Homo sapiens: one gene and its partners. The protein of the gene in region 1 purifies or fractionates together with the protein of each later gene. This does not show direct contact. Each region holds a gene or a part of one and is shown in the gene's direction. Other genes may lie near its edges.

What was found.
Region 2: the proteins of ART3 (region 1) and DYNC2LI1 purify together in Homo sapiens (affinity purification with mass spectrometry, with the first as the bait; one large-scale study listed by BioGRID). This does not show direct contact.
Region 3: the proteins of ART3 (region 1) and SLC60A2 purify together in Homo sapiens (affinity purification with mass spectrometry; one large-scale study listed by BioGRID and IntAct). This does not show direct contact.
Region 4: the proteins of ART3 (region 1) and HSPA12A purify together in Homo sapiens (affinity purification with mass spectrometry, with the first as the bait; 2 studies listed by BioGRID). This does not show direct contact.
Region 5: the proteins of ART3 (region 1) and RAB39B purify together in Homo sapiens (affinity purification with mass spectrometry; 2 studies listed by BioGRID and IntAct, with this or other methods). This does not show direct contact.
Region 6: the proteins of ART3 (region 1) and VMP1 purify together in Homo sapiens (affinity purification with mass spectrometry; one large-scale study listed by BioGRID and IntAct). This does not show direct contact.
Region 7: the proteins of ART3 (region 1) and DDX19B purify together in Homo sapiens (affinity purification with mass spectrometry; 2 studies listed by BioGRID and IntAct, with this or other methods). This does not show direct contact.

What each region holds. Positions count from the first base shown.
Region 1 is NC_000004.12:76,091,709-76,095,208, forward strand, and holds part of ART3 (ecto-ADP-ribosyltransferase 3 isoform a precursor), read left to right. Parts: intron 1-3,500.
Region 2 is NC_000002.12:43,780,539-43,784,038, forward strand, and holds part of DYNC2LI1 (cytoplasmic dynein 2 light intermediate chain 1), read left to right. Parts: intron 1-2,981; coding exon 2,982-3,016; intron 3,017-3,500. UniProt on the Homo sapiens protein: Acts as one of several non-catalytic accessory components of the cytoplasmic dynein 2 complex (dynein-2 complex), a motor protein complex that drives the movement of cargos along microtubules within cilia and flagella in concert with the intraflagellar transport (IFT) system, facilitating the assembly of these organelles.
Region 3 is NC_000006.12:111,276,339-111,280,505, forward strand, and holds the end of SLC60A2 (sodium-dependent glucose transporter 1), read left to right. Parts: 3' UTR 1-3,667; downstream 3,668-4,167. UniProt on the Homo sapiens protein: May function as a sodium-dependent glucose transporter. Potential channels for urea in the inner medulla of kidney.
Region 4 is NC_000010.11:116,670,692-116,673,629, reverse strand, and holds the end of HSPA12A (heat shock 70 kDa protein 12A), read left to right. Parts: 3' UTR 1-2,438; downstream 2,439-2,938. UniProt on the Homo sapiens protein: Adapter protein for SORL1, but not SORT1. Delays SORL1 internalization and affects SORL1 subcellular localization.
Region 5 is NC_000023.11:155,257,735-155,261,491, reverse strand, and holds the end of RAB39B (ras-related protein Rab-39B), read left to right. Parts: intron 1-262; coding exon 263-689; 3' UTR 690-3,257; downstream 3,258-3,757. UniProt on the Homo sapiens protein: The small GTPases Rab are key regulators of intracellular membrane trafficking, from the formation of transport vesicles to their fusion with membranes.
Region 6 is NC_000017.11:59,731,654-59,735,153, forward strand, and holds part of VMP1 (vacuole membrane protein 1), read left to right. Parts: intron 1-3,500. UniProt on the Homo sapiens protein: Phospholipid scramblase involved in lipid homeostasis and membrane dynamics processes. Has phospholipid scramblase activity toward cholesterol and phosphatidylserine, as well as phosphatidylethanolamine and phosphatidylcholine.
Region 7 is NC_000016.10:70,305,686-70,309,185, forward strand, and holds part of DDX19B (ATP-dependent RNA helicase DDX19B), read left to right. Parts: intron 1-3,500. UniProt on the Homo sapiens protein: ATP-dependent RNA helicase involved in mRNA export from the nucleus.

The sequences.
Region 1 (3,500 bases):
TCTCGCTCTGTCACCCAGGCTGGAGTACAGTGGCACAATTTTGGCTCACTGCAACCTCTGCTTCCTGGGTTCAAGCAATTCTCCTGCCTCAGTCTCCCAAGTAGCTGGGACTACAGGCATGTGCCATCACGCCTGGCTAATTTTTTGTATTTTTAGTAGAGACAGGGTTTCACCATGTTGGCCAGGCTGGCCTTGAACTCCTGACCTGAAGTGATCCACCTGCCTCAGCCTCCCAAAGTGCTGGGATTATAGGTGTGAGCCACTGTGCCTGGTGATTTATCTTTATTCCAGTATCATATATTGATCACTATAGCTATATAATAAACCTCAAAACCAGGTAGTGTTCATTGTATTCTTTTCTTGCAAAGTTGTTTTGGTGATTATATGTTCTTTATGCTTCCATATGAATTTTAGAATCACCTTGTCAATTTCTACAATTTCTGCTTGGATTTTGATTAAGCTTGCCTTGCATTTATAGATCAATATGAGAAGAGTTTTAAAAAATATACTTTTCCAACTCATGAACACAGCATAACATCTCCATTTATTTAGGTCTTAATTTCTGTCAGCTGTATCCAAATAGTGTTCAGTGTGTAAGGCTTTTCCATCTTTCGTCAGATTTACCTTTAAGTGTTGTATGTATGAAAAGTTTATTTCACCTTCAGTTTTGAAAGCTGTTTTCACTGGGTATAGAATTCTAGATTGATCTTTTTTTTGTCTTTTAGTAGTTTACAAATTTACTGTTCCTCTGTTGTTTTACTTAAATTGCTTCTGACAAAAAAATCTGCTGTGCTCCTCATTTCTGCTCCTCTTTATTTAGCTCCCCTGCTCCCCACTGGCTGCTTTTAAGACTTTGTGTTTATCATACTTATTTGGACCAATTTGATTATGATGTAACTTAGTGTCATTTTTTTTTCATGTATCTTGTGCTTGGAGTTCATTGAACTTATGGATTTGTAGGTTCATAGTTTTCATCATATTTGGAAAGTTGTGACTACTGTTTGTGCAAATATTTTTTCACCCCTCTCTTCTTCCTTTAGGGATTCTGTTTATATGTATATTAAACTGCTTGAGGTTGTCCCCAGCTCAATGAAACTCTAATGTTTCTTGTTATTAGTATTTTTCTCTGTTTCATTTTTAGATGTTTTCTATTGTTTTGTATATTTCAGTACTTCATTGCTGCCATAACAAATTACCACAAATTTAATGGTTTAAAACAACACATCTAGATTTATTATCATAAAATTCTGTATTTCAGAAGCCTGACATAAGTCTTGCTGAGCTGAAATTAAGGTGTTGGTAGGGCTGCATTCCTTCCCAGGAGCTTAGGCAAGAATCTGTTTTCTTGCTTTTTCCAGCTTCCAGAGGTTACCTGCATTCCTTGGTTTGTGGCCTCCTTCATCCATCTTCAGTCAGAAACAGCATGTTGATGGCCAGGTGTGGTGGCTCATGCCTGTAATCTCAGCACTTTGGGAGGCTGAGGCAGGAGGATCACTTGAGTTCAGGAGTTTGAGACCAGCCTGGGCAACATAGCGAGACCCTGTCTCTACAAAAAATAAAATAAAAAAAGTATCCAGGCATGGTGGCATGCATCTGTAGTTCCAGCTGCCTGTGATGGGCTGAGATGGGAGGATTGCTTGAGCCCAAGAGTTGATGTTGCAGTGAGCCACGACTGCGCCACTGTGCACTCCAGCCTAAGTGACAGAGGGAGACCCTGAGACCCCATCTCAAAAAAGAAAGAAACAGCATGTTGAGTCCTCCGCACCTCGCATCTCTCTGATCATCTCTTCTACTTCTTGTTTTTTCCACTTTTAAGAATTTATGTTATTAGATTGAGCTCACCTGGAAAATCCAAGATAATTGCCCCACCTGAAGGCCAGCTAATTAACAACATTATTTGCATCTTCAACCATTGTTCTCTTTTGCCATGTAAAATAACATATTCACAGGTTCTGGGGATAGGATGTAGACCTCTTTAAGAAGGGTATTATTCTGCATACCACAGTATGTCAAGTTTGCTAATCTTTTTTCTTCAGTGTCTAGTTTGTCAGTAATTCTATCTGGTGTATTTTTCATCTCAGAATTTTTATCTCTAGAAATTCAATTTGGGTCTTTTTATATTTTCCACGTCTCTACTTAACACCTGTTAGTAGTAATGACATACACTACTGAATGTATCCCCCCCAAAATTCATATGTTGAAGCCCTAATCCTCACTGTGATGGTATTTGGAGGTTGGGCCTTCAAGAAGTAATTAGGTTTAGATTAGGTTTTGATTAGGTCATGAGGGCTGGGAGTACCCATGACGGGGCTAATGTCCTTATAAGAAGAGGAAAGGAGACCATAGCTTTGTTCTTTCTCTGACATAATGAGGATATAGTGAGAAGGTGGCTATCTGCAAGCCAAGAAGAAAGCCTTTACCAGAAATTGAACCTGCCATTACCTTGATCTTGGATTTCCCAGCTCTGGAATTATGAGAAATAAAAATCTGTTGTTTAAGCCATCCAGTCAGGGTATTTTGTGTGGCAGCTGGAGGTAAGACAACACCTTTAACTATTTTTTGGACACATGGAATACAGTTGTAATGACTACTTTAATTTACTTTTCTGATAATACTAACATTTGTGTCAGCTCTGGGTTAGTTTCATTAGATTGAGTTCTCTTGTCATGATGAATTGTATTTTCCTGCTTCTTTGCTGGTAGTTTTTGATTGGGTGCCAGATGCTGTGAATTTTACCTTGTTGTGTGCATGGTAATTTTATATTTCTAAAAATATTCTTGAGCTTTGTTCTGGTACATAGTTAATTTACTTTAGAACAGTTTGATTGTTTTAGGGCTTATTCTTCAGATTTTCTAGGCAGAACCAGAGACACTTTAATCCAGGGCTCATTATTTCTCACTGCTGAGGCTGTACCCTTCTCAATACTCTACCTAATGCCTGTGAATTATAAGGTTTTCCAGCCTGGTTGATGGGAATAGACACTATTCTTGACCTTGTGGGTTCTTTCTCTGGCCTTGGGTAGTTTTCTAACACATATAATCTGATCAGCACTCCACTGAATACTTGAGGGAAACCCTTTGCAGATCTCTGGAGTTCTCTGTTTGTGCCACTCCTTTCTCTCTGGTACTCTGTCTATAAAAATTGAATTATCTTGGTATATTCTTTCTGGAAAAATTTTAAACTACTTAAGGGTTGGTAAGTTAAATTTTTCTGGGAATTTGTCCATTTGCCTTTGTATTTCAAATTAGTAGGCATAAAGCTGTTCATAATATTCTCATATCTTTTTACATCTGCTGAATCTGTTGTTAGGTTTCCTTTTTCATTCCTTATATATTTATGCCTCTTCTTTTATTTCTGGACCAATTCTCTTATCCATTTTTAACCCTGCTATTTCTTTAGAAACTCAAAATAGTTTGATTACTGCTATTGAAAATGCTAAACAGAAGATTAAATCCAGAGTTTAAATAGGGAGGAGAAATGCAATCTTAACAAAATGACTC
Region 2 (3,500 bases), on another chromosome or scaffold:
AGTGAGAATAAATAGCTTCGTTTAACAAGGCTGCAGAGGAAGGGGTTCAGGGTAAGTCATATTTTAGTTAAGGCCAACATGTGGAGAGAATATTCTGAAAAGGCTGAGATATTGGGGAGTTTGCCAGTCATGGAGCTGAAGTCATAGAGTGGAAGGATTTTAGAGGAAGGGAAGACAGAAGGGGATTATTGGGCCAGATTAAGGGATGTTTACAGAGTTAGGAAATTCAGAGTTCCAGGGATAATGGGTCAGAGGAGAGGGCTGGACATCTGGGGCGATTGAGGCAATGGGAGGGAAGATGGGATTCATTTTGATGGTCTCTAAATGAACTTGTACTAGGTCAATGTTTCTTGAATTAGGAAACCCACAAGACTACAGCCACATGCTCAGGGGACCAGAGTGTACTAATGAATTTTTAAATTTTGGATTGTAATTTTAATGATAATCTAAAACTTGATTTCAGTTCCCAGATTAGTTTATGTTAATTTGGAATTGTTACCATATAGTGCTATACATTTATATGAAATAATAATAAAAGTGATTTAAGGCCAGGCGTGGTGGCTCAAGACTGTAATCCCAGCACTTTGGAAGGCTGAGGTGGGAAGATCACTTGAGGCCAGGAGTTCAAGACCAGCCTGACCAACATAGTGAAACCCCATCTCAACTAAAAAATACAAAAAGTTACCTGCACGTGGTGGTGCATACTGGTAATCCCAGCTACTCCGGAGGCTGAGGCCTAAGAATCACTTGAACCCAGAGGCAGAGGTTTCATGAGCCAAGATGGTGCCACTGCACTCCAGCCTATGCAACAGAGGGAGACTCTGTCTCAAAAAAAAAAACAAAAAAGGCGAGGGGGAGTGATTTAAATCAATGAATACTAGTGTACCATGAAAATTTGAGGAAATTGGCTAGATATTATTTAAAATTCCTTCCAATTCTTATTCTACTTTCTTGCAGAGTACATTACTTTTTGGGTAATGTAGCCCTTATTAATTTAGAACTTTTACAGCATACTACATATGATACAAGTTCATTGTAGGAAAATTAGAAAATCCTGATTTTCTTTTTCTTTTTTTTTTTTTGAGACAGAGTCTCGCTCTGTCGCCTAGGTTCGAGTGCAGTGGTGTGATCTCGGCTCACTGCAGCCTCTGCCTCCTGGGTTCACACCATTCTCCTGCCTCAGCCTCCCAAGTTGCTGGGACTGCAGGTGCCCACGACCACGCCTGGTAATTTTTTTGTATTTTTAGTAGAGTTGGGGTTTCGCCATGTTAGCCAGGATGGTCTTGATATCCTGACCTCGTGATCCACCCGCCTCGGCCTCCCAAAGTGCTGGGATTACAGGCGTGAGCCACCATGCCTGGCAGAAAATCCTGATTTTCTTAAAAACTTTAATTACCTTCAAATCCTTCAGCTAGAAATAATCATTATTAACATAGTGATGTCCCCCTACATTTGTGTGTTTGTTTCTGTCTATGTGTGTGTGTGTGTGTGTGTGTGTACTTCAAGGAAGCAGGAAAAGTATTTTTTAATTGAAAACAGAGACATGCTGATCTATTATGAATGTTTTACTATGTCAGTAAGTATATTTCTACATTGTCATTCATAATAGCTGTATATTATTCTATTATATGGTTTACCATAATTAATTTAGCCAGTAGGGGACATGTAGGTTGTTTTTAGTTTTTCAGTTTGATGTAACACTGGCCAATAAACATCCTTCAATAATATACATTTTTATATTGTACAATTCCAGTTATTTTTTAATATATCTCATTACAAAAAATTTACTCAATTTGATCGTATTCCAGATATAATCTGGAGTAATTATCTTTTTTGTCAAAAACTATAGGTTTTTTTAGTAAAAACAAAAACACATATAATAAGTGTTCTGTGTTTTTGGCAATCCAGAGTTTTCCAAATTATTTTCTTTAGAGCCTGAAGGTTTCCTCCAGTGGAGCTTGTCCTGCTGTTTCTCTTTTATCTGTTTCCTTGCAAGGGGTCTTTTCTTTAAAAAAAAAAAAAAAAAAAGGATTTTACTATTTTTTAAAAATGATATAAACCACTGAGCTAATCCCTGGCTAAGCTGTGAAGTTAAGTTGCCTGACTAGTGGTAGGAATTAGGCCAGAACTTGTATTTCCTTACTCCTAAAAAGAAACTTGGGGTTGGGCATGGTGGCTCACACCTGTAATCCCAGCACTTTGAGAGGCTGAGGTGGGCAGATTAGATGAGGCCAGGAGTTCAAGACCAGCCTAGCCAACATGGCAAAACCTTGTTTCTACTAAAAATACAAAAATTACCCAGGCATGGTGGTGTGCACCTGTAATCCCAGCTACTTGAGAGGGTGAGGCACGAGAATCACTTGAGCCCAGGAGGCAGAGGTTGCAGTGAGCCAAGATCATGCCACTGCACTCCAGCCTTGGCAACAGAGTGAGACTCTGTCTCAAAAATAAAATAAAATAAAATAAAAATAAACAGAAACTTGGAATAAGTACATCCTCTGGACTTAAAACAAATTACTCTAATGCAGTATCTGAATTGCTTACTTTGAACATATTTACAATGTGTCCTTTATTTGTATGTTACCTTTTTCTTTATTTCCACTTCAACAATTGGAATTAAAACATTTTAAAAGACACTAAGCATCGGCTTAACCAGTAATTAACATTGATGAGTAGAGAAAAAATTTAAGACAGCTGCCAAGTTGACCACTTAAGTGAGGTATGATTTGCTAGTATTTGTCATCTGTGGGACTTTATAATTATAATAATAGCAGTGTAGTTACACTGTGATGGAAAGTTGACAGTTAACTTTTTCCACTTATCAAACTTTAGAACAATTCCGAAAGTTTCTAGTTTTTAGTTTCCAGGTAATTTATCATTCAATTGATTAAAAATCTATTTTGGGCCACAATTACGAACAATAATACAATTTTTACATATGAGTGACATTAACGCAGTGTTCCTTCTTTTTTAATTTCCAGGGAAAGACTACTATTATTCTAAGGTGTCTTGACAGGTAAGTGTTATGTTAACCTTTAAACTATATTTATGCTTATTCTAGTTGTATAGGGCAAGTTAGCTCTAAAAGACATAAGGAAGGGGAACGATTTTGAGACCCAAACAAAATATTTAATTCTTAGCAAATCCTTAGTATAACCTTTAAGAGCGCCTTTAAATATAAAACTAACAATAAGCCAAAAATTATATGAGACTAATACTGGATTTCCCTATTTGAGGGAGAAATGTTACCATAATTACCCAACCTACAATAGTATTTACCTTCTTTTTGGCTATGCTACTCTGATATTTAAATTATTTTTGTTCTACCTAATCTACAATTATTTGAACATTCATTGTAAGCTTTAGTTGCTCAGGGGTACATTTTTGAAGCACAGTGTTGGTCCTCAAACTGGATATTTTATCATTTATTTTATATATTTCCTAACGTATACTGTAGAAGCAGGCCATCAGATTAAGATTTAGCAGTATGATTGGTAGAT
Region 3 (4,167 bases), on another chromosome or scaffold:
TGTTTGTGTTTTTTGTCTTAGATTTTTTTCTTAATCAAGTTTTTCCAGAAGAGAGTAGCTTTAGGAAGAGAATAAACACATACTTTTAAGGTATTATCTCAGACTTTAGGCGCATTATGATCATATCAGTAGCACCCATGTACTGAATAAGTGAACTCAAAGAAAAGTTATGTTGGGCAACTACCTCAAAGTTTTGTTATCTCTGCTTGCAATTTTTGTTCAGTCATTGCACAAGTGCTTGAGGGCTTACTGCATGTGAGGCTCTGTAGACTAAGTATTAATGAACTTTCTTTTTTGTCCTTGCAGTAGCAGGTACAGCTTTGATCTCAGTTTTCTGCCAAATGAATGGTTCTGTGTTTTGTGCTCATTCGTTTACAGAGATCCCTCTGAACCACCTTGGAACCAGAAGGTGTGTGGTCTGAGAACGATAAATGGGCTGCTCTCTGCCTCTCTCACAGCAGTTCTGCCCCTCCTTGGGACCACTCGTTTTCTGCATTCCTGGCCCATCTTCTATATATCTCTGGTCCAGATTCCAGAGGAAACCTGTTTGACTTGAATAGATGCCATTGCCCTTATTGGGCCTTGCCTCAGGAGTTCCTCTGTGTATCTCTGGTCCAGATTCCGGAGGAAACCTGTTTGACTTGAGTAGATGCCATTGCCCTTATTGGGCCTTGCCTCAGGAGTTGCTGGTTAGCCTATGAAGGGGTTCCCTTTGGGTTGATGACATTGCTCCCATCCAGAAAGTGGCTACTTCTACCCTCCTACTCCCACCACTCTGCATGCAGGAGCTGTTATCATCAAAAGGGAATGTCCACTGTCTGCTCTGTACCAGAGAAGTGCTAGGCTTCATAAATATTGGTAATCGATACCTGAATGGGATGAAAATTGGCAGGTCCTGGGATGGATGGCCTGGTTCATCTGCATCAGAACTGGAAAAACAAAATCACACCAAATTGCAGACTTTTTTGGAAGAGCGTGTTAGACAAGGTTTGTGGATTGTTTGATTTTTACCAAGAAAGAAAGCTTTCTCCTAAGAGGGTAAGATTTCTACTTGAGTGAGCTCTAAGAGGAGTCCCAGTTTGCAAGAGATATTATTACAGTTCTCATCTGTGCGGACCAGAAAGTTTTCCAAATTCATGCATTTCAGTTATCTAACAGATATTTACTGAGCATTTACCATGTTCAGTAACCAGGGCCCTGGGAATATAATAGGAGAAGGCAGATGAGATCCTTGCCTTCACCAAGCTTATGTTTTTCTATTTTAAGTAAAATTTGCCATGACAAAATTTCTATCAGCGGAAGAGCCAGTAACTCTTATTGTAATAGGTTTTACCCAGTTTTAGAAAAGGAAAGTAGCTAAACTCTTGGTTCCTTGGTGTGTGTTTTTGTTTGTTCATTTCTAGTACTTGTCTATGTCTTTGGGGTAATTTTTGATTTAGAATTTTGTAGAAATTACTCGGCACAGTGTAGTTGAGGTGAATATAGGCAAGAAGGCTTAGGAAGCCTACAACAAAGGAATCTGACACCAACTTTTGAGATTTATTCAGTCCAGCCAAGAGAATATATTTATGGTCAAACTAGATCTTGGATTACAGCTCCAAAGACCCTTGGGCTGACAGAGCAGGTTCTCATTTCTCAGCTCTTTCCCTTATCACTTGCAGTGAACTCTGCCCCCAGGAGCAGAGTATCCAGTTCTGTGTCCAAGCACTCTATGAATCTTTACCCTTGTTGAAGAAATACTCAGAGACAGAAGCATTTAGAAAAGGAAAAGTTTACCTGCAAAGAGAGCAAGAGAATGACTGGCTTGCCTAATAAAAAACGTAAGTATTTGAAGGAAAAAATTAAAAACTGCCAAGGTTTCTGAGTTTGCATTAGACTGTTCACGGTGAAAAACAGTAACTGCCTCATGTAATTATTGTATTCATAAAGGTTATGGCAAATCTTCAGATGTAGTACAGGAAAAACCAAGGATAAAATTTCTTAGGGAGTCCAGGTTTATGGGAAACATTCAAGGTTTTATTGTTTTTTAGATCATCAACAGTTAGATGACCCTATCATTTTTGTTTTGTCTCAGGGTGCAACGTCTTTCTTTTCTGATGGTGATTGATATAGTTTGGCTGTGTCCCCACCCAAATCTCATCTTGAATTCCCATGTGTTGTTGGAGGGACCTGGTGGGAGGTAACTAAATCATGGGGGCAAGTCTTTCCCGTGCTGTTCTTGTGATAGTGAGGAAGTCTCACGAGATCTTTTGGTTATTATAAGAGGGAGTTTTCCTGCACAAGCCCTCATTTTGCCTGCTGCCATCTATATAAGATGTGATTTGCTGCTCCTTGCCTTCCGCCATGATTGTGAAGCCTCCCCAGCCATGTGGAACTGTAAGTCCAATAAACCTCTTTTGTAAATTACCTAATCTCAGGTCTGTCTTTATCAACAGCATGAAAACAGACTAATAGAATGATATAGGAAGTTCTTAGTCTTACTGAAGCAAGGGAAAGTGACATTTTGCTTCTACACCCTCCAGAATTCATAAGCTCCAGAAGGAAAGAGGACCCAAGGGAAAAACGTGATTGCAAAATGTGTTCTTGTCCTCTGCCCAAGTGATTAACCTTTGCTCCAGTGGTTTTCAAACCTGGCTGCTGTTAGAATCACCTGGCAGTGTTTAAAAATGACTGATGCCCAGCATTTTAACTTAAATACCAATTTGGTCTGGAGTGGAGCCTGAGTATGGATATTTAAAAAAGTAACTCCTCCTCCCCAATCCCCCGTAATTGTAATGTGCAGCCAAGATTGAGAACCACTGCTTTGATCAGTGCACAAAACTGGATCCTCTACTAATGACCGTGGTTTTTTCTTAGGCTTACTTACAGATTGATTAAGTTATGCCACTTTTGTAGATCCTTGAAATTCTGTGCACTTTCTTTCTTTCTTTTTTTTTTTTTTGAGACAGAGTCTCGCTCTATTGCCCAGGCTGGAGTGCAGTGGCGCTATCTCAGCTCACTGCAAACTTCACCTCCCGGGTTCACGCCATTCTCCTGAGTAGCTGGGACTACAGGCGCCCACCACTGTGCCCAGCTAATTTTTTGTATTTCTAGTAGAGACGGGGTTTCACCACGTTAGCCAGGATGGTCTTGATCTCTTGACCTCGTGATCCGCCCACCTCGGCCTCCCAAAGTGCTGAGATTACAGGCATGAGCCACCGCGCCTAGCCTGTGCACTTTCTTAAAGGAAAACTGGAGAGGAAGAGATCTCATGTTTTCTATTCACTCCACTGCTGCTTGGTCCAGTGCAGGAAATATTGCTGTTATTTGAAGTCCTTCCTAAAACAAAAGCTCAGATCTTTTGGAGGTTGCCCTTCTAGGCAGGTTTTCACCAGTCAATTTTGATTTGGGGGGCTTAACAGAGTAGGAATGATCTTGCAGGTTTATTACATCTGAATTTAAGACTACTCACCTAGGCTGGGCGTGGTGGCTCACACCTGTAATCTCAGTGCTTTGGGAGGCCAAGGCGGGAGGATACCTTGAGCCGAGGAGTTCAACACTGCAGTGAGCCATGATCACACCACTGCATGAGTGAGACTCCATCTCAAACAAAAAAAATAGACTACTCACTGTTTACATAGCTTTGTACCATATAAAAACTTGTTTGAATAAAATATTGATAACAATAGTGATGTTGGTTTAAGATTCATGTTTCAGTTGTTTCACTGATTTTTGAATTGATACATAATAGCTATGCATAATTATGGGTTCCCTGTGATAATTCGATACATGCATACAGTGTGTAATGAGCAAATCAGGGTAGTTGGGATATCCATCACCTCAAATGTTTATCATTTCTTTGTGTTGGGAACATTTCACATCTTCTCCTGTAGCTATTTTGAAATATACAATAAACTAGTGTTAACTGTAGTCACTCTACTGTGCTATCAAACACTAGAACTTATTCCTTCTGTCTAACTGTATTTTTGTATTTGCTAACCAACCTGCTGCCCTCTGCTCTGTCCCCTACCCTTCCCAGCCTCTGGTAATTATTATTCTACTCACTACCTCCATGAGATTAATTTTTTAGCTCCCACATCTAAGTGAGAACATGGAATATTTGTCTTTCTGTTAAGTGAAATAACTCCCTTAACATAGTGTCCTTCAGTTTCATCCGTGTTGCTGCAG
Region 4 (2,938 bases), on another chromosome or scaffold:
AGAATTGCCTGGGTGCGTGTTCAGAACAGGTTCCTGGATCTGAGCCCTTTTTAACTGAGGCCGACTCTTGGAGAGGGGCACCAGAATCTGCATTTGTAGTGTATACCACATCGTGGTTCAACTGAAATTGGAGAAATACTAACCTGAGATTTTGTTGAAGTTCACACACAGATCACAGCCCGCCCTCTGCAGGTGTCCCCTTTGGGCTCCTTTAGGAAGAGGGCTTCCATGAGAAGGTGACCCCATACCTTGCCCTCTTGGTCAATGGGATTGGGGCTCCACCTGGCTTGGAGATGGCCCTTTTAACCCTCACAGGAAGGGCCAGGGGAGGAAAAAAATTGCAAGAAAGCGACACCAAGAACGGAGCTGACTGAGGAACCAACTGGAGGGTCTTCACTCTCTCCTTCCCCAGTGTACAAAACCAGTTTTCTGCAACATTCAGGAGCCAAATGAGGAAAAAGAATCAAGAATCTGACTCACAGCCCATCTGATCTGTTCAAAGCTGTCTTTTCCACCTGCTGAAATTCATTAAATCACTGGAGGCATGCATAATGAATGGAGAATGAGTGAACTTCCAATGCAACTTGGATTCACAAACCCATTATCATAGCCAATATGCAGATTTTAAACAGCATTTCACATTTCATTTGACCATGTCTTCTTTTTCGCATCGCCTGCTGCAGAATTCCCTACTAGAATGTGAAACAACGAACAAACCACAGAACTTAGAGTGTGCTGGTTAGTCACATAACTTAGTAGCAGGATTGTGTATCCAGGCACAAAGGTGTCTTTGCTAATGTTCTCTTGCTACCTGCCCTGCTTCAAACGCTAAATGGTATGGGTCTTTCTTTGTTGCCAGCCATATTCTACAAATAAGACTTTTCAATATAGTTATGAGTAATATAATTTTATGTACATATAATGTTAGAATATTGTACAGAATCTTGGTTTCTACGATGCGCTTTTCTTGTTTCAAAAAGAGGAAAATGCTTGATTTTTGTTGATGATACTTTTGTTACTGTCCTTAATTTTCCATAGTTTGGTTTCTTAATTGTGCTCACTAAGCATCGATCTGTGCTGATGCCAAGCTATGGACTATGTACGCAAGACCGAGCAATAGACAGAGGTGCCTAGGGTCCAAACACACTGAACGCACGTGGACCGCCTGGATCAGGAGCCTCATCAGACCCTTCTCCATGCACATCCTTCCCAAACAGTCACAGATTCCATTGAAAGGAGCAGATTCTATCAGTTCTTCTGTGCAGACTTTAAGAGCTGAACGTTCTGGTTCTGGAAGCCATGTGACTGCGCAGAACAACCTAAGAAACCCTTTGTGTCCTGAGGGGTCGTTGACCTCTCCTTCCGGGTCGGAGCAGTCACTCTGAGGGCAAAGCGTGGTCCACTGTGTGTGATGTTTTCAGGATGCTAGGGTCAAAGAAAGAAACCAAGTGGTACATAAGCCCAGCTTTTCTGCTGGGCTAAGTGTAAGTGTGAGTAACATGGTCAAGCCCCTCTTTTTTGGGCTAATGTAAAGCCTTTCCTGCCTTGCATTAATGCTATCTCCCTGTGTACTGTTTCTCTTAAATGAGCAGATAGAAATCTGCAGTGTTGGCAGATAGGTGATGGAGAGGATGATAATTTTATCTTCTGGCCACAGAGCTGCAGCCCCAGTTGTCAGAGTCCTTAAATGAAACCCCCAAATCCATCCCTCCTTCCCTACCCCCACTGGAATATTCTAGAATAAGAGCACTGGATAAGTACACTTGAACACATTTTTCTAACCTTAGAAAATACCTACAAGGCCTGTTGTCTTGACCCATTACTCAATTGTCCCTGGCATATTATCTGATCTTCACGTTTCTTGGAAGCAGAATCATCAAGGCTTTCCTTTGTAACTGCCCTTTCCGTACACAGCAGGCATGAATAAATGCTGAGTAACAGACAAGTTACAGACAGGAGGGGAAAGAGGAGGAACCATACAACTGTTTTTGCAAAATGATGGCTGAGTCCAGATTATAGAGGTTGCCTTACCCTTAGAATGTTATTTAGACCAAGTTTAGCTTTTAGAGTCCAGGTCTGGTTAATTGCCAGGGTAGCAAAGAATCGCATGCACCAATGTAAACAGGAGTCAGAATGCATTATTAGTCAAAGATCGAATTTCACATTGTAGAGATGTATAGCTGTGATTAAGCTGCATATGTATGCTGGGAAACGGCTTGAGTGGATGGCTAATATAAAAGTTGTTGGCCATAATGCCACACCTCTCATCTGCTTGAAATATGGACCAGTATTCTAAAATATCAGCTACTGGGGTCTCATTCACTACAAGATAAATTCAAACTTCACAGAACTTTGCAGCAGTTCACCACCAGACGGGACTGTGTCTGCAAACTCTCTTGTCTTCACAGACGCCTAATAAAGCAAAACTCTGAATCTCATGTGGCCCAGATTTTTTTTCCCCCCATCCTGGGTTTGCAAACTGCATGATGGACACGTCAGTACTGATCTCCCTCTCTACCCCATCTCAGGTGGTGGAGAGAGAGTTTCAGTTTTTTCCAGGTGCTGTAAGTTTTCTTAAGTTATTCTAACAAGACTAGGCCCTTTGTTTGCTGGGAACCAAGGCCCCATCGATGGGCACAGAGCCCCTTTTCTCTGGAAGAAAGTGGTCTAGCCAGAGGGAGGGCAGGTAAGCAGAGTGACCACTGCCAATGCCACTGCACCCCAGTGTAAGTCATTAAAACATGCAGAAGGCCTGGCTGGGCTCTTGCCCCTGGGCATCCCAGCCGTCACGTGAAACTGGCTGTGTCCAGAGCCTACACCTGAGTCGCCCTCCACAGTTGGCTCTGAAAGCTTCCTGATGGCCCGAGGTATGTTCTAAATGGGGTGATAAAAGAGAGGTATAAATGGTGGTCGGCTCCACCAGCCTTCATTTGCAGTT
Region 5 (3,757 bases), on another chromosome or scaffold:
GCTGAATCCATGGAAAATGCCTAAAAGTTCATGAACATTCGTTTCTAGAAGATGCCCATCTCAAAGTTTGGCCCAATTGGAAACTCACATATTAGTAGTAGTATGGAATGCCATTTGTATTCCTTTGTTTTTTTAAAAAAAAAGAAAATCATTTTTATTAAAGGACTGTGTCACTAACCAGGAACACTTGAATATACTGAGTTCATTGACATGCAGAAGTTTGGGCACAGCCTTTACTCTTTACTTCTTTCTTGTGTTTTAGATCCATCACTCGCGCCTACTACAGGAACTCAGTAGGTGGTCTTCTCTTATTTGACATTACCAACCGCAGGTCCTTCCAGAATGTCCATGAGTGGTTAGAAGAGACCAAAGTACACGTTCAGCCCTACCAAATTGTATTTGTTCTGGTGGGTCACAAGTGTGACCTGGATACACAGAGGCAAGTGACTCGCCACGAGGCCGAGAAACTGGCTGCTGCATACGGCATGAAGTACATTGAAACGTCAGCCCGAGATGCCATTAATGTGGAGAAAGCCTTCACAGACCTGACAAGAGACATATATGAGCTGGTTAAAAGGGGGGAGATTACAATCCAGGAGGGCTGGGAAGGGGTGAAGAGTGGATTTGTACCAAATGTGGTTCACTCTTCAGAAGAGGTTGTCAAATCAGAGAGGAGATGTTTGTGCTAGTCAGTTCTTTTATTTCCAAAACATGCTCTCCTACTTGAACTGAAAAGTAAGAGAAATAAATAGAATCTTTGTGTAACTGATGAGAACTCAACCTCCATTTGGATACCAAGTGAGCCTCCCTCTCAGGGGGACTCTGACAGACTCGTGTGCGGGTGGATGGGGGTGCCTGAGTGCTGTGACCAAGGGACTGAATTGCTGACATGGGCCAGGCCAGGCACTGTTTTGTGGCCCATGCTAGGCAGTGGCTGCTCCATGAGCCCTTTGTGGACCACATGTTAAAGGCCTGGGGTTTAGGAAGCTAAGTCCCAGGAAAACATACCTACAGACAGGACAACTGTTCCTTGGTATTTGAGCTCACTTATAGGCCATGAACATAAAGAAATACATAAAGGGGAAAAAAGTTTCACAATGGGGACAATTAGCATAACTAAACAAAGATTATGAGCTCTACTTATTCCGTGAGAATACCCTGCACCAAAGGTGTTTGCTGGGTTTGGTTAAAAGGTACCAATTAGCTTTTAACAGCTTTCTGTAAAATGAGGAACACAGACCAAAAGGTCTGGTGTTCAAGTAAAAATGATGTGACTATGGAAAGGAAGGCAATCGACACAGTTATTAGCACATTTCAGAAAATGAACACCCTTGTGATAGAATTACCAGCTGTATGAAACAAATTGTCCCATGCAAATTACCCTATAACTAGGAAAGAGACACTATAACCCAAATGCCATACCCCCTTTTTCCTTTGACCATGCCTGGGGTTTCAATGCCTTGGCACCTGCAATCTGGAAGTAAACAGTCTGCTTGCTTCTTCAGGCACGTGACAGTGACAACACAGTGACTGCCTCTGAAAAGAGCCCTGAGGCAAACACTCTCTCCTGCTGAACAGGAGGCACTGTAACCCTTACAAACAGCTTACAGTTACTTGGGCTACTTATTTGATCATCATAACAGGCCTACGAGGTTTTTGCCCCATTTTACAGAATAGTAAACTAAGAGCCATGAAAATCACTTGGCCAGGGTCAAGGACTCGTGACTCCTAGCTCTTTTCACTGCATCATACTGCTGTCAGATGAATAAATGATTATGAATTTGTTTACTTGGGAAGAGATATGACTATAAATAAATGTTCTCTACATGTTAGGATATGTTTTCCTTATTGATTACAACTCAGCTATAATCCTGAGGGAACATGGGAAGGAATCAAAGGTAAAGCCCATTCAGGCATTATTGACAAGAGGGCTTTAAACAAGTGAATAATTGCACAACTAAAAAGACATTAGAACTGTGTGGGCTATAAGTGTTCTTATCACTGAGACACAGTGGATTTTTATTGAAAGGAACCACGTACAGCAATGCGGAGTGGGATAGGGATAAAATACCCACCCCAAAATGACCTTGGCCACCTGTCTGCCATATACGTACACTGAGTTCCTGTCTACCCAAGAGAGTCAGCCCTTAATTCTCAGGTGAACAAACAGCTAACTGCATCAGCAAATTGGAATGGCTGGCTTGAAGTTTCCATTATTTTCTTGAAGAGAGGTGATGCTTTAAATTACTTTTTGGATTGTAGCCAGTTCAGCTAGGCAAAAGCCATACTTTTCACAATTAAAAAAAAAAACTATTCTGACTAGAGTCAGGTTTCTCATATCCATTGTGATAGGAAGGCCTAAGAATGGCAAATCGCTTTGAGATATAATATTGAACTTCAGTATGAATGTGACCGAATCTGAAACTTTGGGAATTTGCTTTAGCCAGAATAAAGAAACCAAATCATGAAAATTATGGAAGACTATTCTGCCACCTGTGCCCCAAGTTGGATGAGCAAACCACTTTGGATCAGTTCACAGCATTAACTACAAGTGAACTGATCATCTTCTCTATATTCATTTCACAAGAGCTGGCTTAGGTGGGGTAATTAAATTGCCACCTTCGTGGTTGTAAAAGACAAACAAAACATGGCAAATTTCATTAACACAAAATTTCATCAACTGCTATACTGAATTATGTTTAGAAGATTCTGAAAGCAAGATTATCCAGTGGGTAAATGAGAGTCGACTGGATTCTGTCAGTTCAAAAAAGGAAAGAAACAAAACTTCCCTACAATTTTCTTCACTAAAATTTATTATATGTACAGTATTCCCACTCCTGGCATTTTCTGGCAGGTTTAAAAATATTCAGCATAAATCCAGCAGAGGTGGCTGAGCTTAATTGCTTAAATAAGTTCTAGAAAATTTAAAAATCATTTTAGTAGAATTCAGTACCATTGTCACTGCAATAAGTGGGTTTTAGAAAATAAGTGTGAAAAGAATCAGGTGTTAATATAATACTAAGGATAAAGCTTTAGAAGCTATTTTACTACATAGGTAAAGAAAAGATAAACTAACTTGTAACAAAGACCACAACTGCATGTTGGATTAGATTGTCTCATATTTCAGAATAAAATGTACTGTATACTTTTCCTCACTTTGTTGTGCACTGTAATGAAATGTGAAAAATGCTTTATTTAGCTGTATGTGAATGAAAATATGCTTGTATTTAGTAAAATGATTGATTATGTGACTGTGAGATTCCAAGTGTGTGTTATAGCTATTTCCAGAATCTGTTACTACAGCGTAGCAACTACTACCAAGGATATCAATAAGATGTGACATATACCATACACAATCGTATTCACCATTACCTTAAAGCCAGAAAGAGAATATAATTTTTGAAAGTTATCTGACCATCATATCAAAAGTCCCTGGGACCTCAATACTTCCTGGTGAGCATATGCCACTTTGAGAAAAGTTGGTTCTGTCAAGCCTAAATCTTCATCATGATGATTTTTAATCAAGAGTCTTAATTCTGTTGCCAAGTAGTTGATTACAACTATTATGTTCCCTGGAAAGTCTTCTTTTTTCCAGGCTAAGTTGCCTCAGCTTTTTCAAATCCTACTACGGCATGCTTTTTATGCCAGGATCACTTACAGTGTGGCACCAACATAAGAACACAATAGTTCAGCACATTTCCCAGGATTGATAGTACACATGAGGGTGGGGGGAGGGTTAAAAAAAAAAGGAAAGATA
Region 6 (3,500 bases), on another chromosome or scaffold:
GTCAGTCAGGGCCTGTAAGGTGATATTTCACAGTGATGGCAGAAGGAGCCTGGCCACAATCACATAAACAGTGTTCCAAGTACAAGATTATTACTTGTTAATCTTATAGTATGGTCAGTGTTTATTTGGCTTTGCTCAGTGCTCAATTTTATTGTGCTATTTTGTAATTCTAGAAGTAGATTATAAACTTACTACACTGTTCTTAAATATACAGTTATCAAAAAAGTTAGAATGTGAATATTATTTAAAAATTTATTTTAAAATTATCGTTTGAGATGAATAAACTCATATTTTAACCAAATTGGAATTTGTGGTAAATTTCAGTGTATTTGACTCCTGTTTATACAGTTACCCTGAAAATGATGACTTTTATTAATATGGATGATTTAAGTAGAAACTTTCCTTCATGCATTTAAAGGAAAATGAAAAAAAAGTTTTACTTTTGTTGTAATCATACTTTTTTTTTAGCTTTTGAATTGTTTGACATCTCAAACACATGGCAAATAATACTCTAGTGTGGTAATATTTTCACAGCAATCCTCTACTTTTAGAGGAAGTGCAAGGAATCTGAAATAGTAGTTTTCATTTGTTTGTTTGTTTGTTTGCTTTTTGAGACGGAATCTCACTCTGTCACCAGGCTGGAGTGCAATGGTGCGATCTTGGCTCACTGCAACCTCCGCCTCCCAGGTTCAAGCAATTCTGCCTCAGCCTCCCGAGTAGCTGGAATTAAAGGCATGCGCCACCACGCCCAGCCAATTTTTGTATTTTTAGTAGAGATGGGATTTCACCATGTTGGCCAGGGTGGTCTTGAACTCCTGACCTCGGGTGATCCACCCACCTTGGCCTCCCAAAGTGCTGGGATTACAGGCATGAGCCACCGCGCCCGGCCTCATTTGTTTGTTAATCACCATATTGCCTTGCAGAGGACATTTTGCAGCACTGATCTGACTTTTGGGTTACTTTGGTTGTCAGTAAACTTGGCAATTTCACCAAGAGTTTCAGGATTCAGAGATGGGCATTGCATACATCATAGTGTCTTCCCATTAGGAGCTTTTGTGTGCTATTTTTTTCTTTCCTTTTAGAGAGCACATACATTTGTATATTCTTCCTCTTCTGCTCACCCCATTGGAATTTAAAATTAACATTAGCATGTCAAACTTACTCTTCTGTACCAGGTGTTTTTTAATATTTTAGAGATTATGCTATAACTGTACATGAAAAACTGATTCTTAGGCTGGGCGTGGTGATTCACGCCTGTAATCCCAACACTTTGGGAGGCCAAGGCGGAAGGATCTCTTGAGCCCAGGAGTTTGAGACCAGCCAGGACAACACAGGGAAACCTCATCTCTGCAAAAGATTTTAAAAATTTGCTGGATGTGATCGTATGCGCCTGTAGTTCTAGCTAGCTACTCAAGTTCTAGCTAGCTACTGGAAAGACTGAGGTGAGAGTATCGATTTAGCCCACAAGGCTGCAGTGAGCTGCGATCACACCACTGCACTCCAGCCTGGGTGACAGAGCAAGACCCTGTCCCCCAAAAAAAAAAATTTATTCTTTATTATGGCTGCTTAGTTTTTCTTTCCATTGTACGAGTGTGCTGTACTTTAATCACTCTTCTGTCCTCTATTGGTAATATATAAGTTATTGATTATTTTTTGCTAGTACAAATAATGCTGTGGTCAATAAAGTTGTGCAAGTCATTTCACCTTATACCTAATCATTCCTAGAAATGGAATTACCGGTTTACAGTGTATATGCATTTTGTGCTGGGCGTGGTGGCTCACATCTGTAATCCCAGCACTTTGGGAGGCGGAGGTGCGTGGATCACTTGAGGTCAGGAGTTTGAAACCAGCCTGGCCAACATGATGAAACCTCATCTCTACTAAAAATACAAAAAAAAACTAGCCGGGCGTGGTGGCAGATGCCTGTGATCCCAGCTACTCGGGAAGCTCAGGCAGGAGAACCGCTTTAACCAGGGAGGTGGAGGTTGCAGTGAGCCAAAATCATGCTACCACTGCACCCCAGCCTGGGCAACAGAATGAGACCCTGTCTCAAAAAAAACAAAAACAAAAGCATTTTGTAATTTCAATAGATGGTGACAATTAATAGCTAAACTTAATTGGGCACTTACTAAGTGTTAAACTCTTCTGAGAACTTTACATATATGAGCTCATTTAATCCTTAAAATGACCCTGAAAAGTATGTACTATTGTGATCCCCATTTTACAGAAGAGAAAACTGAGTCACAAAAGTATTAACTAACTTGCCCAAGATCACGTGACTAATAGAAGGCAGAGCCAGGATTGGAACCAACTAGTTTGCCTCACCATTTTTGCGATCTAAACCACTTTGTTCTGTAATATGATCCTAGGTTGATAGAATGCCCTTCATAGAAGGTGGACCAATTTAGACTTATTTCAGTAATTTTCCCAAAATCTATAGCTCTATCCCAAATTCAACTGCTGGAATTTTCAGTACCATTTCTTTAGGACATCCTCTACAAAAGATTCTGATGTTTATCAAGGCAGGGAGTTGGTTTTGCCTCAGTTGTTCTCTAGGTAACACTGATTAAGAAATGGCAACTATAATATAGTAGCCCCCTTATCCATGAGGGATACATTCCATGACCCCTAGTGGATATAGGAAAAAACACTGTGTTGTTCTGTATATAGTAATGGGGTAACATATACAACGCGGATGTACTAAACAAAGGGATGAATCAGGTCTTAGGCTGGATGGAGCAGGACTGGCAAGATTTTATTATACTACTCAGAACAGCATACAATATAAAACTTAGGGGCTTGGCTGCAGTAGCTCACACCTGTAATTCCAGCACTTTGGGAGGCCAAGGCGAGCTGATCACTTGAGGTCAGGAGTTTCAGATGAGCCCAGGCAACGTAGTGAGACTGTGTCTCCACAAAAACCAAAAATATTAGTTGGGTGCGGTGGTACACACCTGTAGTCCTAGCTGCTTGGGAGGCTGAGGTGGGAGGATCACTTGACCCCAAGAGTTGGAGTTTAAAGTGAGCTGTGATTATGCCACTGCATTCCAGCTTGGGCAACGGAATGGAGACCCTGTCTCTTAAAAAAATAAAAATAAATTTAAAACAATAAAACTTATGAATTGCTTATTTTCAGAATTTTCCATTTATTATTTTCAGACCATAGTTGACCATGTGTTACTGAAACTGTAGATAAGGGGGAACTACTGTCATTCATCTTCTTTCTATGCTGAGTTGGGACTGGTTGCCTTTTTTTTTTTTTTTTTTTTTTTGAGACAGAGTCTCTTTCATTCTGTTATCCAGGCTGGTCTTCAGTGGCACAATCTCAGTTCACTGCAACCTCTGCCTCCCAGGTTCAAGGGATTCTTGTGCTTCAGCCTCCCGAGTAGCTGGGATTACAGGCGTGTACCACCATGCCCAGCTAATTTTTGTATTATTAGTAGAGACGGAGTTCCACCATGTTGGCCAGGCTGGTCTTGAACTACTGACCTCAAGTGATC
Region 7 (3,500 bases), on another chromosome or scaffold:
TCAACGTAGAGATAAATATGTGTTTCAAGTAGTTCTGAGAGGTTTTTTGTTTTTTTAATTATTATTTTTTAAATTTTTATGTATTTATTTTTTGAGACAGAGTCTCACTCTGTCGCCCAGGCTGGAGTGCAGTGGCGCAATCTCGGCTCACTGCAAGCTCCACCTCCTGGGTTCACGCCATTCTCCTGCCTCAGCTTCCCGAGTAGCTGGGACTACAGGCGCCCACCACCATGCCCAGCTAATTTTTTTGTATTTTTTTGGTAGAGATGAGGTTTCACCGTGTTAGCCAGGATGGTCTCGATCTTCTGACCTCGTGATCCGCCCGCCTCGGCCTCCCAAAGTGCTGGGATTACAGGCATGACCCACAGCACCCGGCCTGTTTTTTTTATTTTTTAGTTCTGAGAGTTTTGACTATTTTAACTAACTTCTTGTTAGGTCAGTTTTGTTGTTGTTGTTGTTGTTGTTTGTTGTTGTTGTTGTTTTTGAAATAGAGTCTTACTTTGTCACCCAGGCTGGAATGCAGTGGTGTGTACATGGCTCACTGCACCCTTGACCTCCCAGGCTCATGCAGTCCTCCCACCTCAGCCTTGCAAGTAGCTGGGACTACAGGTGTGCACCACCACACCTGGCAAATTTTTGTATGTTTTGTAGACATAGGGTTTCACCATGTTGCTCAGGGCAGTCTCAAGTTCCTGAGCTCAAGCTATCACCTGCCTTGGCCTTCCAAAGTGCTGGGATTATAGGCATGAGCCACTGCACCCGGCCATTCAGGTCAGGTTAAATTGTCATTGTTTTAACCTATTAATGTGCCTAAGAGGGTTTGTTAGGAGTAGGTAGCTTTGACATTTTCTTTTTGGCTTGAGTTTGCATCATAGAGTTATCTTTTGGATAGAACAGAAACTCATAATAATGAATCCAGTGATAATAAAAACTCAGGTATGAAATGATTAACTCTTGCTGTTTTTAGCAGGCCCAAACTAGCCATTTTATTAACCTTACAACAACAAATTCCTGCATTTTATGAAACAGAATCTTGAGACCCTATTATTATGACATTATGGTGAGATTAAAGTGTACAGTTCACTGATGGTTGGTGTATTCAGAAGTGTGTAGCTTATATCACAGTCAATTTTAGAACATTTTCATCACCCCAAAAGGAAACTCTGTACACATTAGCAGTTACTCCCTGTTTCCCTACAAACTCCCCAGCTCTAGGCAATCACTAATCTACTTTCTGTCTCTTTAGATTTGCCTCTTTTAAACATTTCATATAAATGGGAACATACGGTATGTGATCCTTTGTGACTGGCTCCTTTTATTTAGTATAATGAACTAAGGTTCATTAGTTGTAGCATGTATCAGTACTTTATTCCTTATTGTTGCCAAATAATATTCCATTGTGTGGATATACCACATTTTATTTATCCACTTATCAATTTCTGGACATTTGGATTATTTCTACTTTTTAGCTACTATGAATAATACTGCTTTTGATTAATGTACAAGTTTTTGTGTGGACATATAGTTTCAATACTCGGGTATATATCTAGAAGTGGGACTGCTGGATTATATAGTAATTCTGTATTTAACTTTTGAGAAAGTGCCAGGATGTTTTCCAAAGCAGCTGCATCATTAATCTTTAAGATTAATATTGTCTATGAAATAATATGTCTTTTTTTATTTTTTATTTTTTGGAGACAAGAGTCTCGCACTGTCTCCCAGGCTGGAGTGCAGTGGCACCATCTCGGCTCACTGCAACCTCTGCCTCCCGGGTTTAAGCGATTCTCATGCCTCAGCTTCCTAAGTAGGTGGGATTACAAGCACGTGCCACCATGCCCAGCCAATTTTTCATATTTCAGTAGAGATGGGGTTTCATCATGTTGCCCACAGTGCTCTCGAACTCCTGAGCTCAGGCAATCCATCCATCTCGGCCTCCCAAAGTACTAGGATTACAGGCGTGAGCCATCACATCTGGCCATATGTATATATATGTGTGTGTGTGTGTGTGTATGTATATATGTGTGTGTGTGTATATATGTGTGTATTTTTTTTAATAGAGATGGGGTCTCATTCTGTCACCCAGGCTGGAATGCAGTGGCAAGATCATAGCACACTGTAACCTGGAACTCCTGGGCTCAAGCAATCCTCCCACCTCAGCCTCCCTGGTAGCTGGGACTATGGGCACATACCACCATGCCCAGCTAATATATTTATTTATTTTATTTTAAAATTTATTTAAATTTATTATTTATTTATGTATTTATTTTTATTTATTTATTTATTTTGAGACGGAGTCTCACTCTGCTGCCAAGGCTGGAGTGCAGTGGCACCATGTCGGCTCACTGCAACCTCTGTCTCCTGGGTTCAAGTAATTCTCCTGCCTCAGCCTCCTGAGTAGCTGGGATTACAGGCACCCACCACCATGCCCAGCTAGTTTTTATATTTTTAGTAGAGACAGGTTTTCACCATGTTGGCCAGTCTGGTCTCGAACTCCTGACCTCAGGTGATCCACCTGCCTCGGCCTCCCAAAGTGCTGGGATTACAGGCGTGAGCCACCACACCCGGTCTATTTATTTATTTATTTTTAAGACAGAGTCTCACTCTGTTGCCCAAGCTGGAGTGCAATGGTGTGATCTTGGCTCACTGCAACCTCCAACTCCCAGGTTCAAGTGATTCTCCTGCCTCAGCCTCCTGCGCCACCACACCTGGCTAATTTTTTTTATATTTTTTTAGTAGAGACAGGGTTTTACCATGTTGGTCAGGCTGGTCTCGAACTCCTGACCTCAGGTGATCAGCCTGCCTCAGCCTCCCAAAGCTCTGGGATTACAGGAATGAGCCACCATGCCCAGCCTATTTATTTATTTTTTAGGAGATGGGGTCTCACTATGTTACCCAGGCTTGTCTCGAACTCCATGAGTTCCAAGGATCCTCCCTCCTCGGCCTCCAAAAGTGCTGGGATTCAAGTCACAAGCCACCATGCCCTGTCAATATTTTTATTTTTAATCTTTATAGAGGTGGAGTCTCACTATGTTGCCCAGGCTTGTCTCAAACTCCTGGCCTCAAGGGAGCCTCCCATTTCAGCCTCCCAAAGTGCTGGGATTACAGGTGTGAGCCACTGTGCCCAGCTGTTTTTTTTTTTTTAAAGTTCTAGGGTGCATGTGCAGGATGTGCATGTTTGTTACATAGGTAAACATGTACCATGGTGGTTTGCTGCACCTATCAACCCATCACCTAAGTATTAAGCCCCACATGTATTAGCTCTTTTTCCTAATGCTGTCCCCCACTGCCCTCCCCCATTAGTGTATTCTTTATCCTTCAGAATTAGTGAAGGATTTTTACTGCTTTATAATGATTTCTTTTTTTTTTTGTTTGTTTTTCAGTCGGCTTTCTCCAGTTGAATGGTTTCCTTTTTGTTAAGTTGCTTTTTTCTAATCTCTTTAATGTGTTCCCTTTCTTTTTCCTCTTTCCCAACACCAAAGCAGAAAGGGACCAGAAACTTC